Linked DNA regions of Homo sapiens: region 2 is linked to region 1. The links come from fine-mapping of genetic effects on gene expression. A gene starts in region 1. The other region holds a variant in brackets. All regions are shown on one strand. Distances are between the middles of the regions.

Region 1 (12,905 bases):
AGGCACAGCATAGTGTACATGGGAAACGTAAGCAGAAAGAGTTCAACAGAAATCAGATTCTCTGTGACAGGTGGGTGCTTAATTCCACTAAGAGGCCCTGGGTTCGTATATTCTGAAAATAAAATCAATAGCAATCAATTAAAAGCAGAAGGCTGCCAGGCCTATGCAGAATAATGACTGGGAGGCCAACTAGAAAGAAGGAAAAATAGATAGTTTGTGTGTTAAAGCTGCCAGCATAGAGGTTGAATAATGAAATTACTAACTGTGATATTTAAATTGGAGACCCTGCTATTGAGGGGTTAAATGTGGTATGTACTGAATAAATAAGGCAACCCTACAGGTTGGGACTACAAGAACAGACAAGTGAACACAATTAGAATTTTGCTTTTAGAGAATGAATGAATATATAAAGAAAGAGGACACAACCAGAGCTTTAGAAAGTACATGAATATTTATACCTTAATACTAGACGATGTATTTATGTATATGCATGGACATGTGTGTGCCAGATGAACGTTGAGACTGAAAGAGAATAGGAAATGTGTGTAAATATATGTACTTTGTCGGAGAACGAGGAATTGTTGTATGGGACTTGGACTGAAAAGGTTGATTGTATAGTTTCACTGATGGTGGTGTGACATAGCTCAGATATATGTGGCAGTTGTGTGTTATTTTCCAAATTAGATAATTCAGCTTCTATACATCTTATTTCATAACCCAGGCATTGTTATAGCATTTTGCAGACATTGCAGTGTGGGTGGAGCAATCTGTCCATCTCACAATGGGTCCATGATGAGTTGTTTTGTGCAGTGATTTTGATGATGGTTATGTGTGCCTAGTTTCCTTATGTTTTTGCCTCTCCTACAAGCTTGGTTCTTCCTCCTTCTTGTTGATTCTAAGACCTACCCACTATTCTTTCAATAAATACATTTCTATTTAAATCGTCTTCAGTCTGCTCCTAACAATTGCAATTAAGAACCCTAACTTACAAAGCCATAAAACTTCATTTCAATCCTTTTCATTGAGTAAGCCTTTAGCCTACTAAGGCACATATATTGTGCCTGATGCTGTGCTGGAAACTGGGTAGACAAAGATGAGTGACATAGTCCTTATCATACAGGTACTTCGAGTCTAGTGGGGGAACAACAAATATAAAAAGAAATTTTAAAAATAATGATATGATGTGGAATTTGCATGAGGGACCAATTAATTCTGCTCAAGGAGAGGTAGGGTGCTTCATGAAGGTACAAAGAATTGTTTGAGTGGGGCCTGAAGGACAAATTGGATATCACTAGTTTTATAAGAGAAGGCTTTCCTGAAAGAGTGGTGCCAAAATCTGAATGTTTGTGTCCCTGCAAAACTCATAAGTTGAAATTCTAATTCCCAAGTTAGAATTAGGAGGCTTGGCCTTTGGGAGGTGATTAGGCCATGAGGGTGGAGCTCTCATGATAGGAATTCGTGTCCTTGCAAAAGAGGCCTCAAAGAACTCACTAGCCACTTCCTCCTACCTGTGAAATTACAGTGAGAAGGAGCCATTTATGAACAAGGAAGCGGGCCCTCACTTGACTCCGAATATGCCAGTGCCTGGATCTTGGACTTCCCAGCCTCCACAACTGTGAAAAATAAATTTCTGTTGTTTAAAAGCTCTCCAGTTTACGTATTTTGTTATAGTAGCCCAAATGGACTAACACAAGTGGGTTGTAGGAGCCAACAAAAGGAGATGAAAGTTTGTGATGCACTTGTAGCCTAGCAAGTAGAGTATGGCCAGAATGTTGCAATCATGAAGCAAGTGCCTAGAAATAAGGCCAGAGTGATAACATGAAATCTGATGATGAGATCTGATTATGAATGCCTGTGTATACCATAATAAAACATTCATTTATTTGATAACTACCATCACAGTTTTTATTTTATTTCATTTTATTACTTTTTTACTTTTCTTTTTTCTTTATTTTTGTTTTTTTTAAAGATCCCCACTAGATACCTGTTTCACAAACCATCACGATTTTTAAAGCAAAAAAATGACAGGATCAAATCTGTGTTTTAGAAAAATAATGCTGGTGTCACTGTGAAGGCAGTAAGAACCTGGTCAAGGCAACACCAACATAAAACACATTTGAACGTTTAGCTGCAAAAATTTTTGCTTACATTCCAAGGGAGAGGTGTACACAGCTCAAAACCGAGAAAGCAGTAATGCAACCCTTTATTTATTTTTCATTTATTATTATTATTTTTTAAAAAGAGAGTCTCGCTCTGTTGCTCAGGCTGGAGTGCAGTGGCATGATATTGGCTCTCTGCGACCTCTGCCTCTCCGGTTCAAGAGAATGTCCTGCCTTAGCCTCTGGAGTAGCTGGGAATACAGGTGCACACCACCATGCCTAGCTAATTTTTGTATTTTTAGTAGAGACAGGGTTTCGCTAAGTTGGCCAGGCTGGTCTCGAACTCCTGACCTCAAGCGATCTGCCCACCTCGGCCTCCCAAGATGTTGGAATAATAAGCATTAGCCACCACGCCTGGCTGAACCCTTTAGCTAAACGCCAACTTAGGTGGTAGCTGGCTGTGTTATCTGAGTTAGCCATATATCCTTGGAAAGGTTTCTTTAGTCTTGGATTACTCATCAAGAGGAGTACTAATTACATGATAATGTAATGATCCTTATGTTTCAGGGTAGCTGTGAAGATAAAAATAGTGTATAATAAATTCTAGCACAGAGCCTGATTTTCAATAAACATAGTTGCTAAATAACGGGAGCTACTATTATCAACACAATGAAAGATGTCGAAGGCTGAAAATTCTATGACTCACTAGACATAGCCGTAATAAATGCCATATTATATTTTGATGAAGCCACAGTAACCAATACAAAGTGACTTCCTCTTATTTCAGAAGCCAAAGGGCAAGAAAGCTTAACCATCTAAAGCAATGGTGTCCAATCTTTTGGCTTCCCTGGACCACACATAAAATACACTAACACTAATGATAGCTGAAGCTCTAAAAAAATTGCAAAAAATCCATAATGTTTTCAGTGAGTTTACAAATTTGTGTTGGGCAGAATTCAAAGTTGTCCTGGGCCATATCCATGCAGTCTGTGGGCCTCAGGTTGGACGAGCTTGATCTAAAGGAGAGGAATAGGAACTTGGAGAGGCCCTCCTTTCAACCTTTTCTTTTTTTTCTTTCTTTTCTTTGTTTTTTTTTTTTTGTTTGTTTGTTTTTAGATGGAGTCTTGCTCTGTCGCCCAGGCTGGAGTGCAGTGGTGTAATCTCGGCTCACTGCAACCTCCGCCTCCCAGGTTCAAGCAATTCTCCTGCCTCAGCCTCCCTGGTGACTGAGATTACAGGTGCGCACCACCATGTCTGGCTAATTTTTGTATTTTTAGTAGAGACAGGGTTTTACCATGTTGGCCTCGAACTCTTGACCTCAGGTGATCTGCCCACCTTGGCCTCCCAAAGTGCTGGAGTTACAAGGGTGAGCCACCACATCTGGCCTCAATCATTTCTTAGAAGGTAAGAATCTCCACATTTCAGTCTACTGCATGGTTCTTCTGTCATTTTCTTTTAAATCCTTTGCTCTTTTACATGCGTGTATTTGTTCTCCTATTAAATTGAAATGTTTAGGTCAAAGCATATCTTTTAATTATTTTAATGTTCTACTACTTTATGGAGCTTACTATAAACAATTATCTTTCACATTTTCACTAAAAAACGTTACTTTCAAAAATATATGGATACATACACACACACGTATCTGATGAGGCACACCTGAAAATTTATTTTAACTCTTGACAAATATTGATTTTAAGCTCTTAACAATTTATAATTAACCTCATAAAAACATACTTAAGTAAGCATTTAAAACATAAAATAATTTCCCTGTTTTCATGCTACCACATATTATTTTAATTCATGAATTATCTCATTTACTTTTTTACAATTGTTAATTCAGAGAATTAGAAATAAACAAGAAAAGTGGGTCATGGTTACTCTACCTTAATAACCTCTGTTAATATATTTAGTAATACATGAATAAGACTAGACAATTTCAATCAGTTTAGAAAGGTACAAAATGGAAAATGGAAGCCTTCCTTCCACTGGAATGCCATCCTGAAAAAAAATCTAAATTTATATGTATCTCTCCATTTCGTGCACGTAAGTGATCTCATCATACATACATAATATAGCTTGCTTTTTCACAGAGTATATTGTGGAATTATTTCCATGTTAGCATTTAAATCTCCTTCATAGCAGATAACACTTGCATAGTATTCTGCTGAATGAATGAGTGCATGATAGTTTATTTGTTCAGTCCTGTATTGATAGACACTCTGGTTGTCTCTCTTTCCTCCTCCCTCCCTTAGTCTCTCCTTCCTTCCATCCTTTCTTTCTCTCTCTCTCTCTTTCTGCTTTTCTCCCTTCCTTCCTTCCTTTCTCTTTCTTTCTCTCTCTATCTCTATTTTTCTCTCTATTACAAACCATGGTAGATAAATATCTTTGTTCATATACTGTGGGAAGTTTTTGCATTATATCCATAGTAAATGCCTAACAGGAAGAGTGCCATGTTATGAGGACACTCAGATAGCCCTGTGGGAGGGACCATTTGGTGAGAAATTGAGCCTCATTTTAGTAAGTAGCATATGCCAGCCATGTGAGTGAGCCACCTCGAAGTGAATCCTCCAGCACCAATTAAGCTTTCAGATGACTGCAGTCCTAGGTAATATCTGATTGCAGCTTCATGAGAGACCCTGAGCCTAAACCGCCTAGCCAAGTCACTCTTGATTTCCTGACTGACAGAAGTTATGATTTTTTTTAATATACTAGTTTTGGGGAAATATGTTAAGCAATATCAGATAACTAAAATACTTACGGCTTGGAACAGTGGTTGTCAACCCCGGACAATTTTGCCCCTCAGGGACATTGGCAATGTCTGGAGACATTTTGATCGTTCCAACTGGGGAGGATGCTACTGGCATTTAGTAGGTAGAGGCCAGTAATGCTGCTAAACATCCTACAGTGAACAGAATAGTTCCCAACAACAACAAAATATGCAGCCCCAAATGTCAATGGTGCCAAAGTTAAGAAATCCTGAATCCTAGAATAACTTAAATAACATTGGAATCAATTTTTTTTTTTTAAAACATAAGGTCTCACTCTGTCGACCAGGCTGGTGTGCAGTGGCATGATCTCGGCTCACTGCAACCTCCGCCTCCCAGGCTCAAGCAATCCTCCCACCTCAACCTCCTGAGTAGCTGAGACTACAGGTGTGTGCGATACCACGCTTGGCGAAATTTTTGTATTTTTGAAGTGACAGGGTTTCTCCCTCTTGCCTAGGCTGGTCTCAAACTCCTGGGCTCAAGTTATCTGCCTGCCTCAGCCTCCAAAAGTACTAGGATTAGAGGTGTGAGCCACCATGCCCAGCCCAAATATTTTCTTTCTTTCCTTCTCCTTTTCTTTCCTTCTTCTTTTCTCTCCTGCTTTCTTTTCTTTTCTCCACACCCGCCTCCAGCCCTCCCTCTCTTTCTTTTTTCTTTTTTTTTGGTGACAGATTCTCACTCTGTTACCCAGGCTGGAGTGCAGTGGTGCAATCACGGCTCACTGCAGCCTCAACCTTCTGAGATCAAGTGATCCTCCCACTTCAGCCTCCCAAGTAGCTGGGATACAAACATGCACCACCACAACTGGCTAATTTTTAAAATTTTCTATAGAAGTGGGGTCTCTTGATGTTGCCCAGGCTAGTCTCGTATTCCTGGGCTCAAGTGATCCTCCTGCCTCTATCTCCCAAAGTGCTGGGATTACAGGTATAAACCACTGTGCCCAGCCTCTGTATCTTTTTCTTTTCTTCTTCTTTTTTTTTTTTTTTTTTTTTTTAAAGAAGGGGTCTTGCTCTACCATCCAGGCTGGAGTGCAGTGGTGCAATCTTGGCTCACTGCAACCTCTGCCTCCCAGGTTCAAGCGATTCTCCTGCCTCAGCCTCCTGAGTAGCTGGGATTACAGGCATGAGCCACCACACCCGGCTCCATATCTTTTTTAATTTTGGATTTTTAATCACCTTTACAGGCAGCGGTAATTGATGAAGTAAGTCCTGACCAACATAAAAACACATTTTTGCAATGAGGTGCTAAAGAGTCACACAACTTCTTTTGCAAGCTAGTTGAATTCCAAGATCCTGTCCTTTTTGGAGTTTTGGAAAACAATATGTGAAATAGGTTATTATTTTAATTCTAACACTTTTTCTATAGATCCTTCTGGATTATCTAGGGACACATTGCATCACCTATCAAAAAGTGTAAATTTTAAAAATTCTCTCTAATCTTTATGACTTTTTTCTTAGTTTATTATTCTGGTTTGAGCTTCTAGTGAAATATTGAATAGCAGTGTTAGTGGATAGTTTTTGTCTTATTCTTGATGTCAAGGAGAAAGTTTTAAATATTTCCTTAGGTGTGATGTTTGTCATAGGGTTTTTTTTTGTATATACTCTCAATCCAATTAAGGAAATCCCCTTTTATTCAAATTGCTAAGAGTTTACTTGTTTCTTTAATCATGAATGGATATTGGATTTTATCATCGGCTTTTTCTCAATCTATAGAAAAGCTCACATGGGAGAAAGAATAGTCCTTTTAGCAAATGGTGTGGGAGACAACTGAATATCCACATTTAAGACAATAAAACTGGATCCCTACCTAACATCCATACACAAAAATTAGCTCAAGGTACAAGATAGGCTTTAATATAAGTGCTGAAACTATAAAATTTTATTAGGCCTGTGCAAAAGTAATTGCGATTTTTGCCATTACTTTCAATGGCAAAACCTGCAATTACTTTTGTGCCAATGTAATAGAAGAAAACACAGGAATAAATTTTTGTGATCTAGGTTGGGTAATAATTTCTTGAATAAGGCACCAAAAGCACAAATAATAAAAAAGGAAATTGATAAGTTGTATCTCATCAAATTAAGATTAATTGTGCTTCAAAGGATGCCATTGAGAAAGTGAAAAGACAAGCAAAAGTAGGAAAAAATATTTTCCAATAAATTGTTAGGACTAGTATCCAGAATATATAAAGAATTCTTACAACTCAATATCACTAGTCACTAGGAAATGGAAAGCCAAATCTCAATGAGGTATCATATCACACTGAGTAGGATGGATAAGATAAAAAAGACAGACCATAATGAGTGTTAGTCAGGATGTGAAGAATACTGGAGCCCCTCATACAGTGCTGGTGGGAATGAAAAATGGGGCAGTCACTTCGGAAAACTATTTGACAGTTTCTCAAAACATTAAACATAGAGTTAACCATAAGAACAATCTACTCCTAGGTATCTTCCTAAGGAAAGTGAAAACATACATCCACACAAAAACTCTCACATGAAAATTCACAGAGACATTTTTCATAAAAGCCAAAAATTTGAAACTACCTAAATAGCCATCTGACGAATGAATAAAATATGGGAGATCCATACAATGGATTATTATTTGGCAATAATAGGGAATGAAACACTGATACAAGCTACAAAATAGATGAACCTTGAAAAATTATGCTAAGTGAAAGAAGTCAGGCATGAAATGTTACATATTGTATAATTCTGTTTATATGAAATGTCCAAACTGGCATATCTATAGAGACAGAGAGCAGATTTGTGGTTTCCTAGGGTGGTAGAGAGGGGAAAATGGGGAGTGCTAGTGGGTACAGTTTTCTTCTTAAAGTAATGAAAATGTCTTAAAATTAGATGATGGTGATATTTGCCAACTCTGTAAATGAACTAAAAGCTGTCATATTTTATACTTTTAATAGGTGAAGTTTATGGCCTGTAAATTATATCTAAATAAAGATTTTAAAAATTAATATAAATTTGTATTTTTTATTACTTAAACATTTTGTCTATTTATCTCCAATTTACTTTTTAAAATAAACAGCTTTATTTTTTTTTTTTCAATTTTAAGATAGGGCCTTGCTCCATCACCCAGGCTAGAGTAGAGGGCAGTGGCATGATTATGACTTACCGCAGGCTTGAGCTCAAGTGATACTCCCACCTCAACCTTCCAAGTAGCTGGGACCACAGGCATGCCACCACACTCGACTAGTTTTCGTATTTTTTTTTTTTTTTTTGTAGAGACAGGGTCTCGCTATGTTGCCCAGGCTGGTCTTTAACTCCTGAACTCGAGATCCCCCTGCCTAAGCCTCCCAAAGTGCTGGGAATACAGGTGTGAGCCACCATACCTGGCCTAAAAAACAGATTTGAGATGAAACTTGCATGCCATTCAATTCATTCATTTAAAGTGTACAGTTCAGTGTTTTTTAGTATATTTACAGAGTTGTGCAACCATCACCACAATTTAGCTTTAGAGTATTTTCATCTCCCCAAAAATTAACCTGTACCATGAACTGACACTCCCCATTCCCTCTTCCCAACACTCCTCTTCCCAGAACCACTCATCTACTTTCTATCTCTATTGATTTACCTATTTGGGAGATTTCACATAAAGAGGTCATACAATATGTGGTATTTCATGACCGCTCCTGACTTGGCATGTTATCATCGTCATTCCTTTTAATTGTACATATTTGCAAGCTCTACATTATATTATTGCTTTGTATATATGCAAATTCATTTGGATATATACACCTTAGGTAAACCTTTGATATTTTAATTTTGGTTACACTGAACTTAAATTTATCTGTGAAAGAGAAAAGACATCTTACAATATTGAGTCTTCCTGTTGAAGAGAACAATATATTTTTTCATTGATTTAAGTTTTATGTTCTCCCAGTAGCATTTTAAAGTTTTCTTCATCTAGGTTCTCTGTATTTTTTGTTGAATTCATACCTAGATATTGCTGCTTTTTGTATATTTTTTTCTTTTGGATAGTTGGGCCTTCTCTTCTTCATTAGAGTAGAGATGAGTGGTTTTGTCAGTGCTTTCTTTATGTGACCTCTGTAATAGGTAATTTTCCCTTAAGTCTGATATACAATATAACTATGTACATAGACATATATGAAACAAGGAAAATTTATGACAAGAGCCAAATAGTGTTTCTGACAAATAATTCACAGAAGCCCAGCGATTTTATTTTGATCCAAATTTTAAAAACTGAGAAAAGAAAGAAAAAAAGCAATGATGTTTGTTTTCCAGAGTTTCCCGGGAAGTTTTTTCAACTTGTTACATTTTTATCCATTACTTTACAGCTACATGGGCTCTGGTCCATTTGTGTCAGGGCCAAGTTCATCTTGTTTTGAGGCCTGTACACTTACACACTTTCTTCTGCCTGGGAATGATTTCTCCTCACATTCTGATTCTCCTTCAAATCTCAGTTTAAGTGTCAACTCCTCTCCAAACCTCCCTGAGTGAAGTGGGCCTTTCCCTCCATTTTCTTTCACTGTACTACTTCATCCCCTGAGCACTCATCACAACCTAATAACATCTATTAACAGCTTTGTCTGTTTCAGACACACAATGTAGATTCTCCAATGCCTACCAGAGTACCTGGCACATACTATGCCTTCAATAAATAATTTTCAAAAAAATGAATTCAGATAAGGCAAATGTAATTTAAACTTTCAGTTAACTTATATTGAATGTATATGCCAGGCACAAGTCATGGTGTATTTTACATACTACATTTGGTTGTCATCTAATTAGCTCTGAAGGTCGCAGATCCATAATTCCAAAGTCCTCTCTAATCCTATAAATTTTCTCCTTCTACCTGAGGGTCTTGTCCCGCCCCCCACATCTTCTCCGCCCCTCACGCTTCTGAGAGCCCAAGCAGGGTTACCCGGCGAAGACTTCCGGGGCCGATGCGCATGCGCGGCCGATTTGCACATGCGCAATACTCGCGCTGCCTCCGTGGTCCCTGCCTGGCTGAGGTGGCAGCAGGGGGCGGGACGCGCAGCGCTATGGCAGAGGGCAGCGGGGAAGTGGTCGCAGTGTCTGCGACCGGGGCTGCCAACGGCCTCAACAATGGGGCAGGCGGGACCTCGGCGACGACCTGCAACCCGCTGTCGCGCAAGCTGCATAAGATCCTGGAGACGCGGCTGGACAACGACAAGGTAACCGGGGCTGGCGGGGCCGGAGTCACAGGTTCCTGCGGGGCTGAGCCGGGCCAGGGGCGGCGTCTGTCAGGGACCCACCGCGGTCTCCCTCGTCCCGGCAGCAGAGGGACCGCGAGTGACCCCAGACCTGCGGGCTCCGCTGCTCTGCGGGCGCCGGGGGCGGTGAGAAGGGGGAGCCCCAGCAACCTCCGGAAAAGCGAAGGGGTTTCCTGGGTGTTCTCTCCACCTGAAAAGGTGCCTTCAAGGCTCTCTGGATGGGATTGGTGAACGGTGGTGCCTCGAGAAGTGTCCTCCAAACACCCCTGGAGGCGTTTGGCTGTGTGAGCTGGGAGAGTGGAGGAGAGCACAAGACTGGATATGAAACAGATGCAAAAGAGCAGATTCCAAGATAAGGTAGCGCAAATGGGGGTCGGGAGACCAAGAGAGCAGTGGTAGGGATAAGGGTGCATTTCCACGGACAAGTGACAACAATTGCAATAATTTGCAGCGCGAAAGAACTACCTTTGCCCGTGGCTGAAATGAACTCATATCTACTAGTTTTTGTTGAGCCAAGCGCTATGATTTGTGGGCTCAGGCTGTATTTCTTTAGAAGATAAACTGACAGCATGCTCTCACAAGTACCTCCTGAAACTTAAGTTGGACTTTACAGCTCCTCACATACCCAGCCATCTCTTCTGTCTCTGTGGGTCGCTAGGTAAATTGGTCATGACAGTGTAACATAAAGAAGAACATATGTCAAAGTTAGAGAGTTTTATAGGTGAATATGTAGGTAACTGAAAATAAGCTGTCGATAACAATTTGATTCCGATATGTAAAAAAATAACATTGCAATGTAATGAATAAGAAATTAGGGCTCTGGAGACTACCACTTATTAGATAGAACCACTAAATGTGTGCATCATGATTTGAGTAAGTCCCTTCACTAATCTCAGCTTCTGTTTAGGAATTAGGAATCCTGCTGTTAAGTTTCTCATGGTTGTTATTTGAGGACTCAGTGAGAGACTCCAGGTAAAGTCCTTTGCAAAGAGCCTGGCACTTACTCTTTCTTAACAAATATTAATTTTATCATAAAATTTATGAAGTGTTTAATGTGTCTCATATTGATATTTATTATATCATTTAAGACTGCTACTTGCTCTGATATAGATAACATGGCCTTCTTTTTTGGACAGAGTTTTGCTCTTTTTGCCCAAGCTGGAGTGCAATGGGCGCAGTCTCGGCTCACTGCAACCTCTGCCTCCCGGGTTCAAGCGATTCTCCTGCCTCAGCCTCCCAAGTAGCTGGGATTACAGGCATGTGCCACCACGCCTGGCTAATTTTGTATTTTTATTAGAGACGGGGTTTCTCCATGTTGGTCAGGCTGGTCTTGAACTCCTGACCTCAGGTGATCTGCCCGCCTCAGCCTCCCAAAGTGCTGGGATTACAAGGCGTGAACCACTGCGCCCGGCCACATAACCTTCTTTTTACCATGAGGAAAATAAAGCATGGAGAGAGTGCAGCTAGGTTGTCATATAACTAGTAACTGGTGGAACTGTAATTTGCATCTGAGTCTGTGATTTCATTCGTTCAACATTACTGATTACTTCTTTGAACCAGACCTTAGGACATTTCAAGGCTATAGTCTAAAGAAACTGCTTCACTTCATGGGTTTTTTTTTTCTGTACAGTAAGTATTTATAGTTGTAAACATATTTTTGCTTCCTCTGAAATATTAAATTGAATTTATATAAATAGTTTTACTGTTTTTGTCAATCCAGCCAATATTTCAAAATAACAAATAGAAACATGAAAGGGTAAGCCTACTAGAATATACAGTAGTGGAGGTGTAGAAATGTATATCTGCAGAATTTAGTGTACAATGGGGATGTCCTGGGCTTGGTTCTCTGCTCTCTCTTCCATTCATGTTTTCTCTGTAAGAAAAATCTTGTACTTTCATGGTTTTAAGTAGCAAAAAGCATGATTACTCTCAAATTTATAACTCTGTTTCTGACATCTACTGAGCTCCAGATTTGTAGAATTAGTTGTCTATACTATACCTCCAATTGGATACTGATTGACGTCATAGAACTTAACATGGGCGGAACTCTTGATTTTTCCCTAAACTGGTTCCGCTCTCACTAAAGAACGTCACCATTTACCCAGTCAAGCAAGAAGCATATGAATAATTTTGGATTCTTGTCACTTTTTTTTTTTTTTTTTTACATCTCCTGCAAATCCACAAACATATCTTATAGGTTCTACTTTGAAGAATATTTTTGGAATATCTTTTTTTTTTTTTTGAGACCAAGTCTCACTCTGTCGCCCAGGCTGGAGTCCAATGGAGAGAACATGGCCTTACTGTAGCCTTGATCTTGCTGGCTCAAGCGATCCTCCTGCCACAGCCTCCCAGGTAGCTGGGTCTACAGGCACATGCCACCATACCTGGCTAATTTTTTGATTTTTTTATAGAGATAGGGGTCTTACTATGTTATGCAGGCTGGTCTTGAACTGGCATCAAACTATCCTCCCAACTTGACCTCCCAAACTGCTGGGATTACAGGTGTAAGCCACCGTGCCATATTTTGGAATATCTCTTTTTCATTTGTACTACTGCCATCTTGGTCTAAGCCACTATCAAACCATACTGGGATTATTTTTGTTTTTTCTCTTACCTACCTCCTTTCTTGTACCCCTTTACCATTCATTTTCCTTACAAAGTTGGAATAAACTTTTATAAATATAAATCGTATTACATTACTCCCCTGCCTAAAATCGTAATAATTTCTCATAACTTCAGTCATAGTGGCCTTCCTTCTACCACTTTAGGGTCTTTGTACTCATTGTTTGCTCTGTCTGTGGAAGGCTTTGTCCCCATGACTGGCTG
Region 2 (8,000 bases), 54 kb after region 1:
GAGGAACAGATAATTCTCCAGAACATGAAAAAATATGGAAAGCTTCCCAGTTTGTTTTAGGTAGTATAACACCGACATAAAACCTTTTAAAGATAGTCAGTAGTGGAAACCATAGATTAGTCACTTTTTAAGTTTTAAAACTTCAAAATTCAGCATTTATATATTAAAACCAAGAATGGTTTATTACATGAATATAAGAATGTTTCAGTGTTAGGAAATATACTAAATGAGTATATAAAATAAATTTTATATTCTCATATTTGATCACATTGGGGAAAATCTTAATATTAAAACAAGTCATTGATGAATACTTCCTTAACCATATAAAGAGAGATAAAACTAACAGCCAACATCATAATTAATATTGACACACTAGTGGTTCTTCTATTTAAGTGAAGAACAAGAATGCTTGCCAATACTTTTAAATAATAACCACGGTAGAAAGATGAGATAAAGAAATGAATTGTAAATATTTTAAAGGAGGAGACATTAGATTATTTATGGATGTTATGATAGTCTATTTTGAAGACCTAGGAGAATCAACTAAAAAGCTATACAACCAGAAAATGAATTCTAGTGAAGTCGTTGGTGAAAAGATCAATATACAAATGTAATTAATTTTCTTATATACCAGCTCATGAGGTGCTCAATAAATACTGGTAACATGAATGGTTCAGTTCATTTTCTGCTGGCCTATATTCCATCACTATCTTGCCATTAGCTTTAAATCTCTTGCACCCTTGCCATTTTACCACATTCACTTTGCAAAACCACCTTGAGTTAATTCAATTTTTCAATTTTTCCTGAGCTCTGCTAAAGAAAATTACATCATACAGACAGGAATCACTAAAAATTGTCTCCAACATCAGGAAAGCCCCCCAGGAGGTCCAGCAAATACTGATTGTCCTTTGGCAGCCACTCACATTTACCTCACTTATTTTCACCCATTTCCTCAAATCTACCATACTACCTCCTACTGAAAAAGTGCCAACTCTTGCTAAAACTGGATAATGGACATTAAAAAAAAATCTTTACCAACATGACGAGCAAAAGCGACATTTTGTTGTTTTTCTCATTTGGATTTCTGTGATTCTAGTGAGAATGAACATTTTAAGATATGTTTTTGGCTGTTTGTGAATTGCTTGTTCAAGTCCTTTGCCATTTTCCTATTGGGTTGTCTTGTTCATTTCTGATATTCTTTATGCATTAAGAATATTAACTCCATCATATATATTACAGACATTTTCTCCACGTTATCATTTGCCTTTAAAATTTGCCTGTAGTATTTTCTGACACATCAACTTTTAATTTTTTTATAGTTCAATAGAACTTTTTTTATAGTTTTTTTCCCTTGGGAGCATTCCATGCTTGAAAGTATTCCCACAAGAAAAAACATTTAGAATTTAATATATAATAAAGATAGCATCTATTAGTGGGGAAATGATAGATTGTTTAATACATTTATTTAGATGTATTTTCTTAGGTGTTTCTATGTTTTCACTTTATTTATTTTTTTAAGCAACAGGGTCTTACTGTTGTTGCCCAGGATCGTAGCTCACTGCAGCCTTGAAGCTCAAGCCATCCTTCTGCCTCAGCCTTCCAAGTAGCTGGGACTATAGGTGCATGCCACCATGCCCAGCTAATTTAAATTTTTTTTTTTTTCTGTAGAGACATGGTCTCACTATGTTGCCCAGGCTTGTCTCAAACTACTGGCCTCAGGTGATCCTCCTGCCTCAGCCTCCCAAAGTGCAGGAATTACAGGTGTGAGCCATCACACCTGGCCCTAGCCCTGGTTTCACTTTTGCAACAAATTTTTAATCTACTGAAGTTTATTATTGTTCAGACTGAAAACTTAGTATCTTATTCTTTCCCAAGTGGTTATCCATTTATTTTATTTTATTCCCCTAATAGTAAGTTTCTATATATTTTATTAGTCATGTAAAAGTTAAAATGAAAGTTGCAACAAAACAGGAAAACATACAGTTGACTCCTGAACAACATGGGAGTTATGATGCTGACCCCTGTGAAGTTGAAAAAATCTGCGTGTGACTTTCGACTCTCAAAATCTAACTGCTAATTAGCTATTGACTGGATGCCTTGCTAATAACATAAGCAGTCAACTCATTTTTTGTTGTATGTATTATACACTGTATTCTTACAATAAAGTAAGCTAGTGAAAGGAAAATGTTATTAAGAAAATCATAAGGGAGAGAAAATATATCTACTATTCATTAAATGGAAGTGAATCATCATAAAGGTCTTTATCCTCATTGTCTTCACATTGAGTAGGCTGAGGAGGAGGAAGAAGAGAGACTGGTCTTGCTGTCTCAGAGAGTAGCAGAGGGAGAAGACAATCTATGTAAATGTGGACCTTTGTGGTTTAAACATGTGTTGTTTAAGGGTCATCTGTAATGGATAGTAAAAGGCAACTGAAGGATGACATCTTCCAATTAAAACTTTGAACAGAATAGGATGAAAATGAGGAAAGAAAGTAATTGTAATCTGAATTTATTAATTACCAATCAATATTGCAGCTTATATGAGTTTATAGCAGTGAATGGGCTCTGATCATTATTGTTGTTGTTTTTGTTGTCATTATTACTAATTGAACCCTGGATGTTTTTCTCAGATATGAACTGGGCCATATTTAGAGTTATTTTTACATTAGATTGCGACCGTGTTATGATTCTCTTTACAACTCATATGTTGCTTGTATCTACAACCATTTCAGGTTTTTTGCAAGAATATCTTCCTTTCATCAAATTTTAATGTTCCATAATTTTATATTAGTTATATCTTTTACTTATTCTGCTTCTTGTAAATGATTTCACTTCCTCTAAAAACACTGTAGCTTTATGAAGAAAACAATATTTATTGTAGCATGTTCTTCATTAGCAAAGCACCCAAGTGGAAATTTTTGTTAATAGAATTTTAAGTGAATAGTATAATTGTTGGAAAGAATAGCTTTTAAAATAAAGGTATAGCCAGAGAGGAATTTTTAAAAATATGATTGCTTTTGTGCTTTTAAAAAGACATACTTGGGAGCTAATTCTTTATCTAGCGTGAGAAAAAGGAAATTCAAGGACATAATTTTATTGAAAGATGTACCTTTTCCCTAACAAAGCAGTTTGAAGCACTTGAGTATTCAAGTAGGCATACTCCCTTCCTTATCAAGCTCTCCTGAAATATTCATAACTGCAAATCTAGTGAAGTTTAAAGAGAATATGCATCTATACTGCAAAAGACACAATGTTGTGTCAATTTAGGCTAGACTGACATTTTCTAAAATTATTTCTCACTATAGTAATAGTGCAGTTCTAATTGCAAGGATATAGCCTGTCTTAAATGAAACCCATATCAAGTTAATAGTAGTCAGGATTGATTTGCCCAGTCCTCTGGAGAAAAAAAAACAAACCCCAAATGATTCTTTAAATAAATTGTCATTTAAATTCTAGGATATGGTTACTGCTTTGAATCTCTTTTTACTACTCATAGCATAGTATGTGGATTAGCAGCTTGGGCATCATATGGGAACTTACTAGACATGCAGATATCTCAGGTCCTGCTCCAGACCTACTGAATTGAATTATGCATTTTAATAAGATTCCCAGGAGGTTCATGTGCTCATTATAGTTTGAGAGGTGCTGTTCTGGTTGAATAGTTTGAGTTTTACATTATTCCTTACAGATGATTCTGCCAGGAAAAACAAACAGAAAACCAAATTTTTTTTATCTGAAATGCTTTAATATTTAAAAAAATAAAAGTGTGTAAAATAAGTTGTAATTTGAAATTATTTCAAACATGTTAGTTTGCAGTCCTAAATTTATCTTGGACAATTTTATTGACTTAAAAACTTAAATTCCACATATTGTCAATTACTAGAATGTATGTATTTAGAGCAAAAGGAATGTATATATTTATATATATGTATATACACACACACTTCTTTTATATATATACTCCTTTATATATATATATACTCCTTTATATATATATATACTCCTTTATATATATATATATATATATATTTAAATATATATAGAGAGAGAATGAGGAAATTAGTTTAAAAATATGAGAACTTTGTGTTTGGTTGGCTAGTCTTTATTTTTTGAAAGCAAATGGGCGAAGGGCCTTCTAAGAAGCTACACAACAGAAAATTATAGGACCTTAAATGGAAGATAGCTGAAAGAATAAAACTAAAGTTGGTAGTGGGATGAAGTTGTAGGAACAGCTTTTGGAATTTTTATGGTGCAACCTTTTTATTTTTCTCTAGTAAAAGTCAGAGCACCTAAACTACAGAAGGGATAAAAAGTAAATAGTCACAAGAACAATGAGGACTTTTGTGTATAGCTCTACACATTTAAAAAAAGAGAGGTTCTAATATATGGAATATGAAGTTTTCAATAGCTTAAATGCTTTTTT[T/A]AAAAAAATTATTGATTGATTAATTGATTGGGTCAGAGTCTGTCTCTGTCGTCCAGGCTGGAGTTCAGTGGTGTGATCTCGGCTCACTGCAACCTCCTCCTCCTGGGTTCAAGCGATTCTCCTGCCTCAGCCTCCCGAGTAGCTGGGGTTACAGGCATCCGCCACCATCTCCAACTAATTTTTGTATTTTTAGTAGAGACAGGGTTTCACCATGTTGGCCAGACTGGCCTTGATTTCCTGGTCTCAAGCAATCCACCCACCTCAGCCTCCCAAAGTGCTGATATTACAGGCATGAGCCACCATGCCTGGCCTTTAAATGCTTTTAAATGTGAAATTTTTCTGTATACTTCAACTTTGTCACTTAGAAAATATTCAAATTTTGAAATAAGTATTTAATAATAATGACTTGATGTTTAGTATGTACAATAATATAAAGAAGAAGAAGAACAAATGAGCTCACTTTTTTTTTTTTTTGAGACAGAGTCTCGCTCTGTCACCAGGCTGGAGTGTAATGCACAATCTCTCTGCTCACTGCAGCTTCTGCCTCCCGGGTTCAAGTGATTCTCCTGCCTCAGCCTCCTGAGTAGCTGGGACTACAGGCATGCACCACCACACCCAGCTAATTTTTGTATTTTTAGTAGAGACGGGGTTTCACCATGTTGGCCAGGATGGTCTCTATCTCTTGACCTCATGATCCGCCCGCCTCAGCCTTCCAAAGTGCTGGGATTACAGGCATGAGCCACTGCACCCAGCCAAGCTTTATTTTTAACTGCAGATATAGTACCCAAGTCTAAAGTATACAGTTAGTTGAATGTTTGTATTTGCATATGCTCATTAGCTATCACCCAGATAAGATATAAAACATTTCTAGCCCTTCAGAAGGCATCCTCTTTCCCCTTCCCAGTCAATATCTAACCCCGGTGTAAACTGCTGTCTGACTACTGTCTCTTGTTTTGCCTGCTATTAACTTCATGTAAATAGATTCATACAGTGTATACTTTTTTGGCCCTGACTTAACATATCTGTAAGATTCATATATTTTGCATGTTCAGTAGTTCATTTTTTAATTGTTGTGTAGTAATTTCATTATATATATTCACCACAATTTACTCATTCTGTTACTGATGGACATTTGGGATGTTTCTAGTTCTTGGATATTGTAAATAAAGCTATTATTAATAGTCTTATACATGTGTTGGTGGACATAAGTTTTTATTTCTCTTGTATGTATGCCCAGAAATGGAATATCTGGATTATAAGATTGATTAGCTTTACTAGATATTGCTAAGTATTTTTCCAAAGTAATTGTCCTAGATCACTTCACCAGAAATGTGGGAGTTTCAGTTGTTCCACATTCTCTCCAGTACGTGATGTTGTTAGTCTTTTTAATTTTAGGCATTGTAGAAAGTGTGTGGTGGTATTTCATTTGCTTGTAGTTTGCATTTTTCTCAAGATTAATGGTGATGAACAATTTTTCATGTTTATTGGCTGCTGGATGTACTTTCTTTTGAAGTTGTCTTTTAAAGACTGTTGCAGAGAGTCCTTACTGGGTTGTTACCTTTTTCTTATTGACTTATAAGAGTTTTCAAACATGTGTTTGGATACAAGTCCTTTATGGAATAATAAGCATCACAGATATTTTCTATCACTTTTTGAACTGTCTTTTCACTCTCTTAGTCATGTATTAGATTAACAGAAATTCTCAATTTTTAATTCAGTCTTGTATAACAAGCTTTTATTTCATGATTAGTTCCTTTTGTGTCCTGTTTAAGAAATCTTTGGCTATCTCAAGGTCATGAGGACATTCTTCTGTATTTTTCTCTAAGAAGCTTGATTATTTTAGCTTCCACATTTAGGCCTTCAATCCATCTCAAATTTTTGAGTATGGTATGAAGGTAGGGGTCAAGTTTAATTTGTGTGTGTGTGTGTTGTTTAAATTACTTTATTTTCCTTGCTTTCAATTTTTCTTGCCTTTGGCCTTGATCCGTGTCGTAATGTCTGGTAAAATATAACAATACCTAATACCATGTTCTCATAGTAGGTCTTCAACAGATGTTTGATAGATTGAAAAACTAGAAGAGCCTTAGAAGCTAATCTTCTCAGTCATCTTTGTCCTTAGCTACATATGTATTTCTTAGGTTACCTGAGACTTTTATGTTTTTTTCCAGTTAAGTTGATATTTAATAATTGGTTGTCTTAGTACCAGTAGTGTAGTTGCAGGTGGTTTTTGTGCTGCGATGCAGGTATAGCCTTTCTTAAATTAAAGATTCAGTCTGAGTTTGTTGGGGATACTTATCTCGGGTGAGCAATTGATGGGGCTCCGCATTAGAAAGGCAATATATGGCTCAAGGAGAAATCCTGGGCTTTGGAGTCTGATAGAGCTGTACTCAAATTCTAACTTTTCCAATCATTATGACTTTCAGTAAGTTGTCACTATGTAATTGAGTTTTTACTAAATGTAAAACAAAGAATTACGGCACAGTCAACGTAGATTAACCTGCCCTAGGTCACATAGTCACTAAGGGTGAATATATATCCAGGTCTGCCTAATTGCTAAGCCTGTGCCTACTTCCTGGTGGATGTTCCATACATAATAGTTCCTTTTAACATTTTCCTTTTATTTATTTTTAATTTTTATAAATTTATGAGATACTAATGCAGTCATGTTACATTTATATATTATGTAATGGTGAAGTCTGGGCTTTTAGTGTAATCATCACCTGAGTACTGTATATTGCACCCAGTAGGTAATTTCTCATCCCCCATTCCCCTCCCACCCTCCCAACCTGTCTGAGTCTCCATTGTCTATTATTCTACTCTGTGTCCATGTGTACACATTATTTAGCTCCCACTTATAAGAACATGCAATATTTGACTTTGTTTATTTCACCTAAGATTATGGCCTGAAGTTCCACTCATGTTGTTGCAAAAGAAATGATTTCATTCTTTTTCATGGCTGAATAGTATTCCATGGTGTGAGTGTATGTGTATATATATGTGTGTGTGTATATGTGTGGTGTGTGTGTATATGTGATATGTAACACATATATGTGTGTGTCCACAAATATATATGTGTTATATGTACACACACACCACATTTTCTTTATCCAGTCATCTGTTGATGGGCACTTAGGTTGATTCCGTATCTTCGCTATTGTGCATATTTTCATGTGGATATACACTTGATCCAGCACCATTTATTGTAAAGGCCATCCATTCCCACTGCAGTGAAGTGGAAATGGTCATAAATTACATGACCATGTATGTGGATTTGTTTGGTAATTGTGTATTCCATTGATTTATTTTAGATTATTTATTTATTCCATTGATTTCATTTTATTTAGAATCAACTTGTGCATTTTTAAAATAAAAAAGCTTTCTGAGGCTTTGATTAAATCTATAGATCAGTTGAGGAGAAATTAATATCTTAATGATACCAAGATTTCCAATTTATGAATATCATATATCTCTCCATTTACTTAGGTCTTTAGTTTCTCTCACTAACCTTTCATAGTGTTCAGGCCTTGCACATCTTTGGTTAGATTTATTCCCAGATATTGAGTGGTTTTTTTGATGCT

Which allele goes with the higher level. Positions count from the first base shown, and alleles are read on the strand shown. Sizes are in standard deviations (SD) of each study's normalised expression.
As copies of T replace A in region 2, the expression in prefrontal cortex of the gene that starts at base 9,823 in region 1 goes up (small effect, 0.29 SD a copy in CommonMind).

The links. PIP is the estimated chance that this variant, and not a neighbour inherited with it, causes the effect.
Region 2: its variant is fine-mapped to the expression of COG6 in prefrontal cortex (CommonMind, PIP 0.95).

Annotation. Positions count from the first base shown.
Region 1 is chr13:39,645,840-39,658,744 of GRCh38, forward strand. It overlaps COG6 (component of oligomeric golgi complex 6), which reads left to right and starts at 9,823. Exons shown (of 19, transcript NM_020751.3): 1 at 9,823-10,040. The coding sequence starts at 9,888. RefSeq lists a silencer at 10,087-10,136.
Region 2 is chr13:39,702,251-39,710,250 of GRCh38, forward strand. The region is part of intron 13 of COG6 (component of oligomeric golgi complex 6); the gene reads left to right. Among named protein-coding and RNA genes, the nearest start is that of MIR4305, 42 kb to the left of the region's middle. The variant T/A (reference allele first, on the strand shown) is at 4,423.